Linked DNA regions of Homo sapiens. The protein of the gene in region 2 interacts with the protein of the main gene of each other region in a biochemical or structural test. Each region holds a gene or a part of one and is shown on either strand. Other genes may lie near its edges.

The links. Proteins that work in one complex are often made in the same cells at the same time.
Region 1: of the proteins of CASP3 (region 2) and GRIPAP1, one has a biochemical effect on the other in vitro, tested with the Homo sapiens proteins (one study listed by BioGRID).
Region 3: of the proteins of CASP3 (region 2) and RET, one has a biochemical effect on the other in vitro, tested with the Homo sapiens proteins (one study listed by IntAct).
Region 4: of the proteins of CASP3 (region 2) and BMX, one has a biochemical effect on the other in vitro, tested with the Homo sapiens proteins (one study listed by BioGRID).

The regions. Positions count from the first base shown.
Region 1 is NC_000023.11:48,985,265-48,988,764, reverse strand, and holds part of GRIPAP1 (GRIP1-associated protein 1), read left to right. Parts: intron 1-566; coding exon 567-644; intron 645-887; coding exon 888-980; intron 981-3,362; coding exon 3,363-3,497; intron 3,498-3,500. UniProt on the Homo sapiens protein: Regulates the endosomal recycling back to the neuronal plasma membrane, possibly by connecting early and late recycling endosomal domains and promoting segregation of recycling endosomes from early endosomal membranes.
Region 2 is NC_000004.12:184,629,822-184,632,447, forward strand, and holds part of CASP3 (caspase-3 isoform a preproprotein), read right to left. Parts: intron 2,576-2,626; coding exon 2,447-2,575; intron 2,120-2,446; coding exon 1,944-2,119; intron 1,337-1,943; coding exon 1,216-1,336; intron 1-1,215. UniProt on the Homo sapiens protein: Thiol protease that acts as a major effector caspase involved in the execution phase of apoptosis. Following cleavage and activation by initiator caspases (CASP8, CASP9 and/or CASP10), mediates execution of apoptosis by catalyzing cleavage of many proteins.
Region 3 is NC_000010.11:43,111,569-43,115,068, reverse strand, and holds part of RET (proto-oncogene tyrosine-protein kinase receptor Ret isoform a precursor), read right to left. Parts: intron 2,971-3,500; coding exon 2,845-2,970; intron 2,217-2,844; coding exon 2,106-2,216; intron 1,514-2,105; coding exon 1,394-1,513; intron 590-1,393; coding exon 333-589; intron 1-332. UniProt on the Homo sapiens protein: Receptor tyrosine-protein kinase involved in numerous cellular mechanisms including cell proliferation, neuronal navigation, cell migration, and cell differentiation in response to glia cell line-derived growth family factors (GDNF, NRTN, ARTN, PSPN and GDF15).
Region 4 is NC_000023.11:15,517,807-15,521,306, reverse strand, and holds part of BMX (cytoplasmic tyrosine-protein kinase BMX), read right to left. Parts: intron 3,379-3,500; coding exon 3,314-3,378; intron 3,111-3,313; exon of another isoform or gene 2,380-3,110; coding exon of another isoform or gene 2,328-2,379; intron 1-2,327. UniProt on the Homo sapiens protein: Non-receptor tyrosine kinase that plays central but diverse modulatory roles in various signaling processes involved in the regulation of actin reorganization, cell migration, cell proliferation and survival, cell adhesion, and apoptosis.

The DNA of each region.
Region 1 (3,500 bases), on a different chromosome or scaffold from region 2:
CAGAGTGACAGGTGAAGGGGTCAGTCTGAGAGTTCACCAGGACCTGGAAACTAGGAGGTTGTGAGTTTGAGACCTCTAGGATCTGGGACTATGAGTTTGGGTGGATCTCACCTGGGAAGTAGGGACGTGGGAGATGAGTGTGTCTGAAACCCCTGGTGGTTGGGATTGGGAGGCTGGGTGAAACTGTCATCCTTGGGTGCTGACTACATCTGAGATCCATGGGGCTGACTGTGTCTGAGAATCCTGGAGCTCCCAAGCTAGAATCTGGGTGAGCATGAGACTTCTTATGGATGGGAGCTGAGTGAGTTTGAACCGCGTAGCAGCTAGGGCCAGGAGTCTAGTCGTGCCTGAGATCTTGTACGCTGGGATAGAGGGGTTGACTGTGTCTGAGGCCCCTGAGGGTAGTGACCTGGCGTCTGGGTGAACCTGAGATTGCTGTTGGCTGGATAGTCTGAGACCCACAGGTGCTGAGAACATGCTGCTGGGTGGTCAAACAGAGAGTCTGTACGGTTATATGCACCCCAGGAGAGGCTGAGGTGTAAAATGGGCTCCCCTGGTCTCCACAGAGCTTGGCAGAGCTGAGAGATCAGCGGCAGGGGGAGCGCCTGGAACATGCAGCAGCTTTGCGGGCCCTACAAGATCAGGTATATTGTACTGCGTGGGCTCAGGGAGCTGGGGTTCAGGATGGGGGCAGCCTGAGTGGGTACTACATAGTCAGGCAAGGTCCCAGGGATCCTGCTTCCCCCAGGCCTTCGTGTGTGTGTGTGTGTGTGTGTGTGTGTGTGTGTGTGTGTGTGTGTGTGTGTGTGTCCTTTCTTTCTTGGTCGTGGGTAGGTCCTGTCCCCCTGTTCTGGACCCACTCTCACCTGCTGTGGACGTGGGGCCAGGTATCCATCCAGAGTGCAGATGCACAGGAACAAGTGGAAGGGCTTTTGGCTGAGAACAATGCCTTGAGGACTAGCCTGGCTGCCCTGGAGCAGGTAAAGAACACCTGGGGGCCCTTGCTGATCCCTCTCCAGTTCCCCCATCTCCATCTGCTTCTGGTCCACATCAGGGTAGGGTGGTCTGGACCCCATGCTGTTCTCCTGTCTTTGTTTCTGTTGCTCCTTTCTGTTGGCGTCCAGCCCTCTTCTCTCTGGCCATCCATCCCTACTTTTTTTTTTTTTTAACTTTTAAAAATTTTATTGGGGAGGCTGAGGCAGGAGAATTGCTTGAACCAGGACCCAGGAGGCAGAGGTTTCAGTGAGCCGAGATCGCACCACTGTACTCCAGCCTGGGCGACAGAGCAATACTCTGTCTCAAAAAAAAAAAAAAAAAAAAAAGGGCGTGGTGGCTCATGCCTGTAATCCTAGCACTTTGGGAGGCCAAAGATGTGTGGATGGCCTGAGCTCAGTTCAAGACCAGCCTGGGCAACACGGTGAAACCCCATCTCTACTAAAATACAAAAAATTAGCTGGGTGTGGCGGTGTGTGCCTGTAATCCCAGCTACTCGGGAGGCTGAGACAGGAGAATCTCTTGAACCCAGGAGGCGGAGGTTGCAGTAAGCCGAGATCGTGCCATTGCACTCCAGCCTGGGCAACAGAGCGAGACTCCGTCTAAAAAAAAAAAAAAAAAAAAAGCCGGGCATGGTGGCTCAATTCTGTAATCCTAGCACTTTGGGAGGCCGAGGAGGGCGGATCACCTGAGGTCAGGAGTTCGAGACCAGCCTGACCAACATAGAGAAACCCCGTCTCTACTAAAAATACAAAATTAGCTGGGTGTGGTGGTGGGCACCTGTAATCCAAGCTACTCGGGAGGCTGAGGTGGGAGAATTGCTTGAGCCCAGGAGGTGGAGTGTGCGGTGAGCCGAGATCGTGCCATTGCACTCAAGCCTGGGCAACAAGAGTGAAACTCTGTCTCAAAAAAACAAAAAACAAAACGAAAAAAAACTTATTGGCCGGGCATGATGGCTCACACCTGTAATCCCAGCACTTTGGGAGGCAGAGGTGGGCGGATCACCTGACATCAGGAGTTTGAGACCAGCCTAGCCAACATGGCAAAACCTTGTCTCTACTAAAAATACAAAAATTAGGCCAGGCGCAGTGGCTCACGCCTATAATCCCAGCACTTTGGAAGGCTGAGACGGGCGGATCACCTGGGGTTCGGAGTTCGAGACCAGCCTGGCCAATATGGTGAAACCCCGTCTCTACTAAAAATACAAAAAAAAATAGCTGGGCATGGTGGCGCACACCTGTAATCCCAGCTACTCGGGAGGCTGAGGCAGGAGAATTGCTTGAACCTGGGAGGTGGAGGTTATAGTGAGCCGAGATTGTGCCACTGCACCCCAGCCTGGGTGACAGAGTGAGACTCCATCTCAAAAAAGAGAAAACAAAATTATTTTGTAGAGACAGGGTCTCACTATGTTACCCAGACTGGCTTAAACTTCTGGCCTCAAGCTATCTTCCCACCTCGGCCTTCCAAAGTGCTGGGATTATAGGTGTGAGCCACTGTGCTTGGCCTATCTCTGCTTTTTTTTTTTTTTGTAGACGGAGTTTCGGTCTTGTTGTCCAGGCTGGAGTGCTATGGCACGATCTCGGCTCACTGCAACCTCCGCCTCCCAGGTTCAAGCGATTCTCCTGCCTCAGCCCTCCCAAATAGCTGGGACTACAGCCGTGTGCCACCATGCCCAGCTAATTTTTGTATTTTTAGTAGAGACGGGGTTTCACCATCTTGGCCAGGCTGGTCTCGAACTCCTGACCTCATGATCCACCCGCCTCGGCCTCCCAGAGTGCTGGGATTACAGGCATGAGCCACCGCGCCCGGCTTCTGCTTTTCTTTGTTTCTAGTTTCTCTCTAGTAAAGTGCATGAAATGTACTAATCTTAAGTGTACACTCAGTGAATCCTCTCTTCGTCTCTCTCTTTTTTTTCTCTCTCTCTCCCCGCCACCATAGCCACCACCCAGATCAAAGTATAAAGCACTTTTAGTACCCCAGAAGGTCCCCTTTACCCCTTCAAAGTCAGTACTCCCCCAGAAGTAACCATTATTCTGATCTCTAGCAACATAAGATTCATTTCGCTTGTTCTTTAACTTCATATAAATGGAATCAGCTGCTCTTTGTCTCTGACTTCTTTCTGGCAGCACTATGTAAGTTTATCCACGTGGCAGCACAGATCTGTTCTCTTACTGTTGTGTGGTATTCCATTGTATGAACATACCACATTTACCCATTCTCTTCATTGTTTTTCTGTTTGAAATTTCCTCTCTCTTCCTGGTTCTCTTCCCACCTCCCTCCCTGTTTCCCTGGAACTAGGGGGCTCATACCCTGTCCCTGGCCCCTGGGGTCCCTTTCACTCTACTTCTCATCACCACTACTTTCTCCAGATCCAAACAGCAAAGACCCAAGAACTGAATATGCTCCGGGAACAGACCACTGGGCTGGCAGCTGAGTTGCAGCAGCAGCAGGCTGAGTACGAGGACCTTATGGGACAGAAAGATGACCTCAACTCCCAGCTCCAGGTA
Region 2 (2,626 bases):
AAAGATGTATAAAAAGGATCATTGTAAGTAGCACAGTGTTCCAATCAGATTTCACCTTATTTTAATACTGACTTAGCCAAGAAACAAATTGCTTTGAGTGTCCTACTTGTCTACAGAGCATCTGAATAAAGTATAATAAACACACTACCAAGTATTGGTCCAAAAAGGGAAAATAGTATATTTATCATACTTTTTTTTCTAGGTTAACTATTAGACCCATTGCTTTTAACTTAGAGGTACTTTGCTTGGAAAGATGCCTAGAGGATAAGATAAACCATATTGAGCATATTTTAAAATGCAACACTGCTTAAGAATACATTTACCTAAAGTTTCCAAACTCTCCGACACCCTTAGCTGTGTGAGTAAATGGTGGTATAATCCACAAATGTTTATTTAGATGATGACGTGTGCAGCAGAACAGTAAAAACGTGGAGGTTAACGGCACATTCATGTATCGTTTTTTACCTTCTTTTCTCCCACTCCACATCTATCCTCTTGTATACTAGTCATGTTTATCTTTTTTATTTACTACCTTTCAAATAACTCCTGAGAAACGTACCTCTCTTCTTCTCTAAGATGCAGGGGAAGCTCTGACTTGGCCTCTGTTGCCACGTAATATTCTACCTGATATTAGTAGCGGAGATCTACCTGATAAAGTCCAATGAATGACATCGTGCTAGTCTACTCTACATATGCATATTTTCTTTTCTTTTTTTCCTTTGAGACGGAGTCTCACTCTGTCGCCCAGGCTGAAGTGCAGTGGTGCGATCTTGGCTCACTGCAACCTTTGCTTCCCAGGTTCAAGCGATTCTCCTGCCTCAGCCTCCCCAGTAGCTGGGATTACAGGCGTGTGCCACCATGCCCAGCTAATTTTTCTGTATTTTTAGTAGAGATGAGGTTGGCCAGGCTGGTTTTGAACTCCTGACCTCAAGTGATCCACCTGCCTCGGCCTCCCAAAGCGCTAGGATTACAGGCGTGAGTCACTGTGCCTGGCTATATATGCATATTTTCTAGCCAAACTTTTGGCTAAAGACAACTTTTTGAGACTTCTCTTTGATGAAGGTTCCCTAAAATATAGACAAGTTTTGATATCTTTAGGGATATCAAAATCTTGACAGTCTCTGAAACACACTTTTCATTGTATAATTCTATGATCAGTCACAGTTAATTCATTTAAAATCCACATGTAACATTCATTATGTGTAACGTTCTCACCAGGTGCTGTGGAGTATGCATACAAGAAGTCGGCCTCCACTGGTATTTTATGACACGCCATGTCATCATCAACACCACTGTCTGTCTCAATGCCACAGTCCAGTTCTGTACCACGGCAGGCCTGGGTGTTAGAAAATAAATATTTATTTATAAAAATTTGTGTGTGAACACATAACTTAGTTCTAAAAAATTGAAATGCTATGTAAAAATGGATGTTAATTGGCCGGGCGCGGTGGCTCACGCCTTTAATCCCAGCAATTTGGGAGGCCAAGGCGGGCGGATGACTTGAGGTCAGGAGATCGAGACCATCCTGGCTAACATGGTGAAACCCTGTCTCTATTAAAAAAAAATTTAAAAATTAGCTGGGCCTGGTGGCAGGCGCCTGTAGTCCCAGCTACTCAGGAGGCTGAGGCAGGAGAATGGCGTGAACCCAGGAGGCAGAGCTTGCAGTGAGCGGAGATCGCGCCACTGTACTCCAGCCTGGGCGACAGAGCAAGACTCTGTCTAAAAAAAAAAAAAAAAAAAAAAAAAAGGATGTTAATTATGCTGAGTCTTTTTGATATAAGTATAAAATTAAAATTTACTCTATATCTTTTAAGTGGTAAATAAATGAAAAGTAACAATAGTTCATTAGCTTCAGGAAAAAAATTATCCTTTGGATAATTTACAGTTGAGAATAGTAACCCCTGCTTAATCGTCAATAACCAAATCACTCAGTTAGACATTACCTGAATAATGAAAAGTTTGGGTTTTCCAGTTAGACTTCTACAACGATCCCCTCTGAAAAAGTTTGTTATTTTTTTCAGGTCAACAGGTCCATTTGTTCCAAAAATTATTCCTTCTTCACCATGGCTCAGAAGCACACAAACAAAACTGCTCCTTTTGCTGTGATCTTCTTTAGAAACTGTAAAGACATTTGCAAATAAAAGGAAAAAAAATCCATGACTTTATTCAACAACTTCAGATATACTGTATGGGAACATGATGAAGAAACTGAGACTAAAACTAAGAGGTCATCTTAACCTAACCTGGGGCACGGCAACACATCTCAAACCATTTTAGGAAGTTGGCATAAATAACTTTTTTTAAACTTCTTACTAAAGTATGTAAGATTAGGGTTATGTACAGTATAATTCCACAATTCTCATATTTTATTATACATATAATTATTGCTAGACCATAGTATAAAATTAATTGTACAATGAAGTTCATTCTAATTGTTTCTTCTTACCATCACGCATCAATTCCACAATTTCTTCACGTGTAAGATCATTTTTATTCCTGACTTCATATTTCAAGTTTCTGAATGTTTCCCTGAGGTTTGCTGCATCGACATCTGTACCAGACCGAGATGTCATTCCTTGGAACAGAAAGAATTACTTTTAATTGTATGGAAAACAAAGAATAACTA
Region 3 (3,500 bases), on a different chromosome or scaffold from region 2:
CTGAGTAGCACATGCAGACCTGCAGGCCAGGCTCCCCAGAAAGGCACCCCCTTCTGACTTCAGTGCCCCTCCATCCACACTGCTGCTCCCCTGCCCGATGCTGTGACCCTGACCACTGCCTCTCACCTAGATGGGAACGGCACCTCATCACAGTCCCACCCCACAGACTGTCCCCACACAGCGCCCTATGGAAATGGGGGCAGAACACAGGCCTCGTCTGCCCAGCGTTGGCAGCCCCTCACAGGATGGCCTCTGTCTCCCCAGCTGGCCTCCCTCCCTGGAAGGCAGCTGGGGAGGGCAGGGGATCTTCCCTGCCCCGCAGGGACCCTCACCAGGATCTTGAAGGCATCCACGGAGACCTGGTTCTCCATGGAGTCCAGCGAGGGCCGGCGGGCACCGGAAGAGGAGTAGCTGACCGGGAAGGCCTGGGCGGGCCTCCGGAAGGTCATCTCAGCTGAGGAGATGGGTGGCTTGTGGGCAAACTTGTGGTAGCAGTGGATGCAGAAGGCAGACAGCAGCACCGAGACGATGAAGGAGAAGAGGACAGCGGCTGCGATCACCGTGCGGCACAGCTCGTCGCACAGTGGATCTGTGGGTGGGGGTGGTGTGAGGCTTGGCACCGCCAGAGGCTCGGCACCACTGGGTACAGGCTGCGTATGCTCTGCCTCATGGCTCTCCAGCCTGCCGTGTCCGCGCCAGCTGGGAAGTGGCCATGGAGGTGTGGGAAGGCCTGAGAACACCCCATCGAGCATGGGTACTGCCATTTACTGCCCCCTCCTAGACCACTATTGCCCTCTTACAGATGGAGACAGAGGCTCAGAGAGGCTGAGCAGCCTGCCAAGGTCACACAGCAGAGGCTGTGCTCATTACACCAGCTGGCACTGGAGGGCTGGCAGGGGAGGTCAAAATTTTCCTCTGTTCCAAATGTCTTTGGCATTTTCTTTATGAAAATGCTAAGTGGCTAGGGACGTAGGGCTATATAATACCAGAAAACTCAATGACAGAAACGTGTCCCTATGCTCAGGCAGAACAGCACCCCTGAGTGTAGTCAGTGTGGCTGTGCAACCCACCATACCTGCTGACCTTGAAATGTGTTCCTGGGTGGGTCCCAGCTGCATGGTCACAGGGACAGTGACTTGTCAGGCTGACAAGTTGTTTGGTGGAAGAACTGCTTTTCTGGCCTGTCCATCATAGAACTTATGGCCAGAAGACACTTTACAGGGGCCCTGGCCCCTCTCCTGGGTGGAGTAACAGAGGCCCAGAGGGAGGGAGGGAAGTTTCATGGGGCCCACTCGCCTCCCAGCAATTTCCTCCCTTGTTGGGACCTCAGATGTGCTGTTGAGACCTCTGTGGGGCTGGGAGGTGGTGGTGGTCCCGGCCGCCACCCACTCACCCTGGATGTCTTCGGGCTCGCAGAAGCACTTCTCCTCCTCAGGGAAGCAGTTGCAGGTGCCATAGCCAGCTTTAATCCCCCGGGGCTCCCCAGGCTCGTGTCCCCCAACAATGCTGCCCCCTGAGGGCAGACGTAGCCCACTCAGCCTCCTGGGGCGCCTGACCACCCCAGGCGCCCATATTTCCAGGGCAGTGTCCCAAGGAGCCCCCTCCCCAACTGGTGTCGCAAGCATAGGCCCAGTGAGGCCAGGGGCCCAGCAGCTTGGCTTAGCCGGGCAGGGCTTGGTCACAGTGCCTTTCTGAAGCCATGGGTGAAGCCAGGCCCCCTCCTAACATTTCATCTGAACAAAGGACTCTGCCTCCAAAACTGGAGCCTGGTGGCCTGACCCGCACATTGCAGTGTCCCTCGTCTGGCTCAGGGCCGCACTTTCCCTGTCAGTGTCCCTACTGACCATTCTCTGCTTCTGAAATCTGTGTGTGCCGACTTCTGGGACCTCAGCAGGGGCCTGGACAGTCTGTGGGTCCCTGCCTTCCCCCTGTCCCTGACCCTGCCTGCTCCCTCCCCATGGCTAGGGTGATGCTGAAATGCACAGGAGGCTCAGCTTGATGCATAGAACTGACAGCCCTGGCAACTCTGGCTGAAGTGCCTGTGGGATCCAGGTTTCCCCTACTATCTCCTACCTGTTCCCATGCCCTGATTAAACCCTGCTTACGGAGGCAGTCCTGAGGGCAAATGTTGATGTCTTGGGTCTCCACAACATCGCAGTGGCCGTCGGGGCAGGTCTTGGTGCTGGGAGAGCAGGTGGAGAAGTTCCTGGTGATCCCTGCACAGGACACACAGCAGGCTGTCACCCATGTGGGAGCCCCGCCACACGCCCCCACCACCTCCTAGGCAGATCCTGCCCCTCTAGGGAGGAGCAACTGGAGGCCTGAGTAGGGAAACACCATATACAGAGCCTTGCCAGCGGAAGCATCCTGGGGAGCCATGGCTTATGGGAGAGGAGGTATGGGGGGTTCCTCACACAGGTGGCCCTTACAGCAAAGAGGCCGGGACCCTCTCAGGGCTGCATGGTGAGGGCCCCTCATGGTGGTGGGCACACCCAGGCTGGCCTCTGGCTGATGCAGACAATGAGTCCCCTGCCCACACCACATCCCCTGGCCGAGGACCTCCCAGAAAAACGCCATTCTGTCCCCAGCACATCCCAACTTTGGTTCAGACCTTCCCAAGTCCAGAGTGAATCCGGCCTGGGGACCATTCACTGTACTCACAAGCCCTCTCCCAAGCCCTGCACTGCTGCCCGCTATGCTGGCATCGAGAGCCACATGGGGGATGAGGTGCCAGAAGCAGACCTGGAGCAGGGAGAGCCACCCCAGGCTGGCAGGGCCCCAGGACCCCGTTTCCACCGGTGCCATCGCCCCTGCAGGCCTCCCTTGGGCGTTTCCAGGGCTTACCTTTGCCATCTCCTTGCCTCCACTCACACCTGCCTGTTGGGGAGCCCAGGCCGCCACACTCCTCACACTCCAGCCGTCTCTTGCTGACTGCACAGGACAGGGGGCAGCCCGCCTCCTCGGCCACATCTGCAGGTGGCAGACAAGCAGGGTCACAGGGGGCTGGCCTGGGCCCAGCGTCCAGCTAGTGCCCAAGGACAGGGAACAGCACCAGCTGAGCTGCCCACGGATGGAGCCCAAGGGGACCGGAGTGACAGACCCAGGGCAGCAAAGACAGTGCCAGGAGCACAGGGCGCAGGGCAGGGTACAGGACATCATGGTCACAAAGCAGGGGTCACCTGGGCTGGGGTAAGTACAGGAGGAAGGATGTGAGTGCAGCCAGATTCAGCCAACGACGCCCTGTGGGACCTACATTTCAGATACACAATGAATGGCATGAATGGCAGCTGTGTCAGCATGTTCCTAAGAGGGCATGGATGGACCTAGAGGTGTGTCTTTCGAGAAGCTGCAAAAGTTGCATGGAACACACCTATACCAAAAAACTGCTTGTTGTTTACCCAAAATTCAAATTTACCCAAGGTCCTGTATGTTATCTGGAAGGAGCAACCATTTACTGCTGGGTCACTCAGGGTGAAGCTGGTCCATGCCTTCCCCACTCC
Region 4 (3,500 bases), on a different chromosome or scaffold from region 2:
CACTTTATAATTCCAGTCATATAAAAGTCAAAATCAGGCAAACAATCTATGATGTTATAAATCAGGTTAGCAACTACTTTTGGAGGGTAGTAGTGACTGAAAGGGAACATCAGGGTGTCCCTGGGGTTCTGTGATGTTGTGTTTCTTTATCTGAGGGTGGATTATACAGAATTGTTCAGTTTGTGAAAATTCATCAAGCTGAACACTTAGGATTTGTGTGCTTTTCTATGTTAATGTTATATTTCAGTTAAAAATTCACAATATGTGTGTGTGTGTCTGTGTGTGCGTGTGTGACAGAAAGAGATGCATTTAATATTTTTTTCATGCTATATTTTAGTTTTTCAGAAATTTCATTTACTTGGAGTTAAGGCTTTGACATTCTGGAAATTTTAATTATGCAGGACAGTGTTATTTATGAGCTGTGAAGTGGGTTATGTCCAAAGAAAAATGCACTAGGAAGTTCCTTAAATGGAAATCATTTAAGGAAATCTCTTTGAACAGAACAACTAGAGAGCTGATTTTTATTTCCTCCATTCAGAAAATAAGCCCTCTACTGAATACTCTGATAAAAAACAAAACAAAGAAAAACATACTTTACATGATACCCTCTGATCCCTGGTTCATTTGGGAAGCTTATAATCAAAACAGGCTTATGAACCCTTAGCCACTGATTTGCCTAGCTGATAATTTTCAATATATTGGCCAAAAAGTTCCCTGCTGGAGACTAGATGCAATGGTTTCTGGCTCTTAATTATCTTCTGCTCTTAGACTTGTCAAAACAAACTTTATTGGTAGTTCATCCTTTTTAAAGTGCAGAATTCAGTGACTTTTGTAAATTTATCAACTTGTATAACTATCACCACAGCCCAGTCTTCCCATCACTCCAATAAGATCCTTCATACCTATTTGCAGTCAATTCTCATCCCTACTCTGGTCCCAGGCAACCACTGATCACCCTTTGTTTCTATAGATTTGCCTAATCTGGGCGTTTCTCCTAGGTGTTTTAGAGGGCCATACTTTTCAAGCTTCAGGACTGAAACATATTTTCAAACCCAAACAGCAATGTTGCTAATAACAAAGTAAAACTCCTAACGATTATAATTGTTTCCTAGGGCTACCATGACAAATTGCTACAAGTTTGGTGGATTAGAACCACAAAAATTTATTGTTTCACAGTTCTAGAGGCTAGAAGTCAAAATCAACATTTCAGCATTGCCATACTTATTCTGAAGCCTCTAGGATAAAATCTTTCCTTGCCTCTTCCAGCTTCTGGTGGTTCCAAGTTGCTATGGTTTGGATATTCGACCCCTCCAAATTTTATGTTGATGTGTGATCTCCAGTGTTGGAGGTAGAGCTTAATGGGAGGTATTTGGGTCATAGGGGCGAATCCCTCATTAATGGCCTAGTGCCATTCTCATGGTAGTGAATGAGTTCTCACTCTATGATTTCCCATGAGAGCTGGTTGTTGAAAAGAGCCTGCTATCTCCCTTCCCTCTCTCTTGTTTCTTCTCTCTCACCATACAATTTCTGCACACACTAGCTCCCCTTCCCTTCTGCCATGAGTGGAAGCAGCCTAAGGCCCTCATCAGATGCCGATGCCAGTGCTATGCTACTTGTACAGCCTGCAGAACGGTGAGCTAAATAAACCTCTTTTCTTTATCAATTACCCAGCCTCAGGTATTCCTTAGTAGAGCACAAATGGACTAAGAAACAGGTGTTCCTTGGCCTGTGGTAACATAACTCCAATCTCTTCCTAGGTCTTCACATGGCCTTCTCCTCTGTGTATCTCTCTGTGTCCTCTCATCTTACTAGTCATTGGATTTATGGCCCACTCTCATCTTTCGTGTGATTTCATCTTGATCTTTAACTAATTACATCTGCAAAGATCCTAGTTCCAATAAGGTCACATTCTGAGGTTCTACATGGATATGAAATTTGGGGGACATTATTCAGTCTACTACAATAATGGATTATTTTTGTCTTTCATGTTGATTCATGAAAATTATGTGGCTTTTACTTAGAAAGAGAGAAGTGTGTGCGAATGTGTGTAGCTGAAAATAAGTACCCAAGACACCATAGATCCAATAGATGGGCGGAGATGTCCCCTTGCTTTCAGGTGAACTTCCAGAGAACCAATGGGAAGCCATTTTTTGTGTATCCTGGCATTTGAGGAGGCTCACACCTGCCTGGGAACCCTAAAAACAGAAGGCTGTGGCTATGAACCCAAGAGAGTAGAGCAAAAAGACAGCAGTAGCCTGTACTTCGAGAGAGAGCTACATACAGCTTAATTAACCAGAGCAATCAAGGTTTTGTTTGTTTTCTTATAGGCCAACTCCACTCTTGGGAAAAAGTTGGCTGACAGCCATCTTGAAAGATTGAGGGCTGAAAATCCAAGAACTGAGGATCAAGATCTCTCCCCTGTCATAAAACTACATATGGATCTGCCCTTCAGTAGGAAATTCCTAAAAGTCTCCCATGAGATAAAGAATCAGTGCTGGAAAACTCACTCCGATACCACCACCACCAAATCATGATAGAAACAGCTATGTGTGTCTTTTTTTAATTAGACCTCATCTTCCTTGGAACTAACTCTGAAAGGGCCATGAATCTCAGCCCCCCCAAAATCCCTCCCCAAAAGCATGCTGCCAGGTGATGCAGGCCCAAGCTAGGTGACAGATGTTTAACTTGGAATGATGTTTGCAGTCATGTGATAATAACATTGGATGGAACAATTCAGAGGCTGTTCTTATGATTACAAGTAATGGGGACATTTTTATCATTTGAGAATGACTGCAAAACTATGGAATTTGGCAAAGACTTTATTTGGAAGCAGGGAAGAAAGCCCACTGAATAGCTTTGAAGGGATAATGGAGGGAAAGAATTATGTTGTTTTCTGCTTTTGTCCTATAGAGTTTCATTTCAACACCAGGATACTTCCACAAAGCAGTCTTGGCCATGTTGATGGTAAGGAAAGAATGACAGCTAATAACAGCTGCCTGTTATGTGTGATGCCATCTTAAGGACATCTCCCGCATGCACCCATTTTTTCTTTTTTTTTTTTTGGTGACTATTTATGGGCTTACTGGCTAGGAAAAGACACAACAATGAAATGCAAAAATATGAGATATTACAATGGTTCTATATTTGAATCCGCTATTCAATACCACCCATAGCTATTATCTAGAGCTCATGGTTTTTCTCTCTTTGCTGAGAAGTCTAAATGAATTCCACATTTTCTAGTCTTGAATCTGGCAACTCTTGGTTTATTTAATATATCCTGACCATGAAAAACATTTTTAAAATGTTGACTTACCACTCTGTCTGGGAAGGTGGGAACTCTGTGTTTCTCTTCATTGACTGCAGTATGCAGATTAGCATCTGAACATTAAAACAAAGTAATATCAGAAGGAACTTTAAACAAAACAAAGAGAAACACTCAATGTTATGAATTAAAAGAATGAACCAGCTTGTGTGAGCAATACTCCAGATTAAGTGAATCC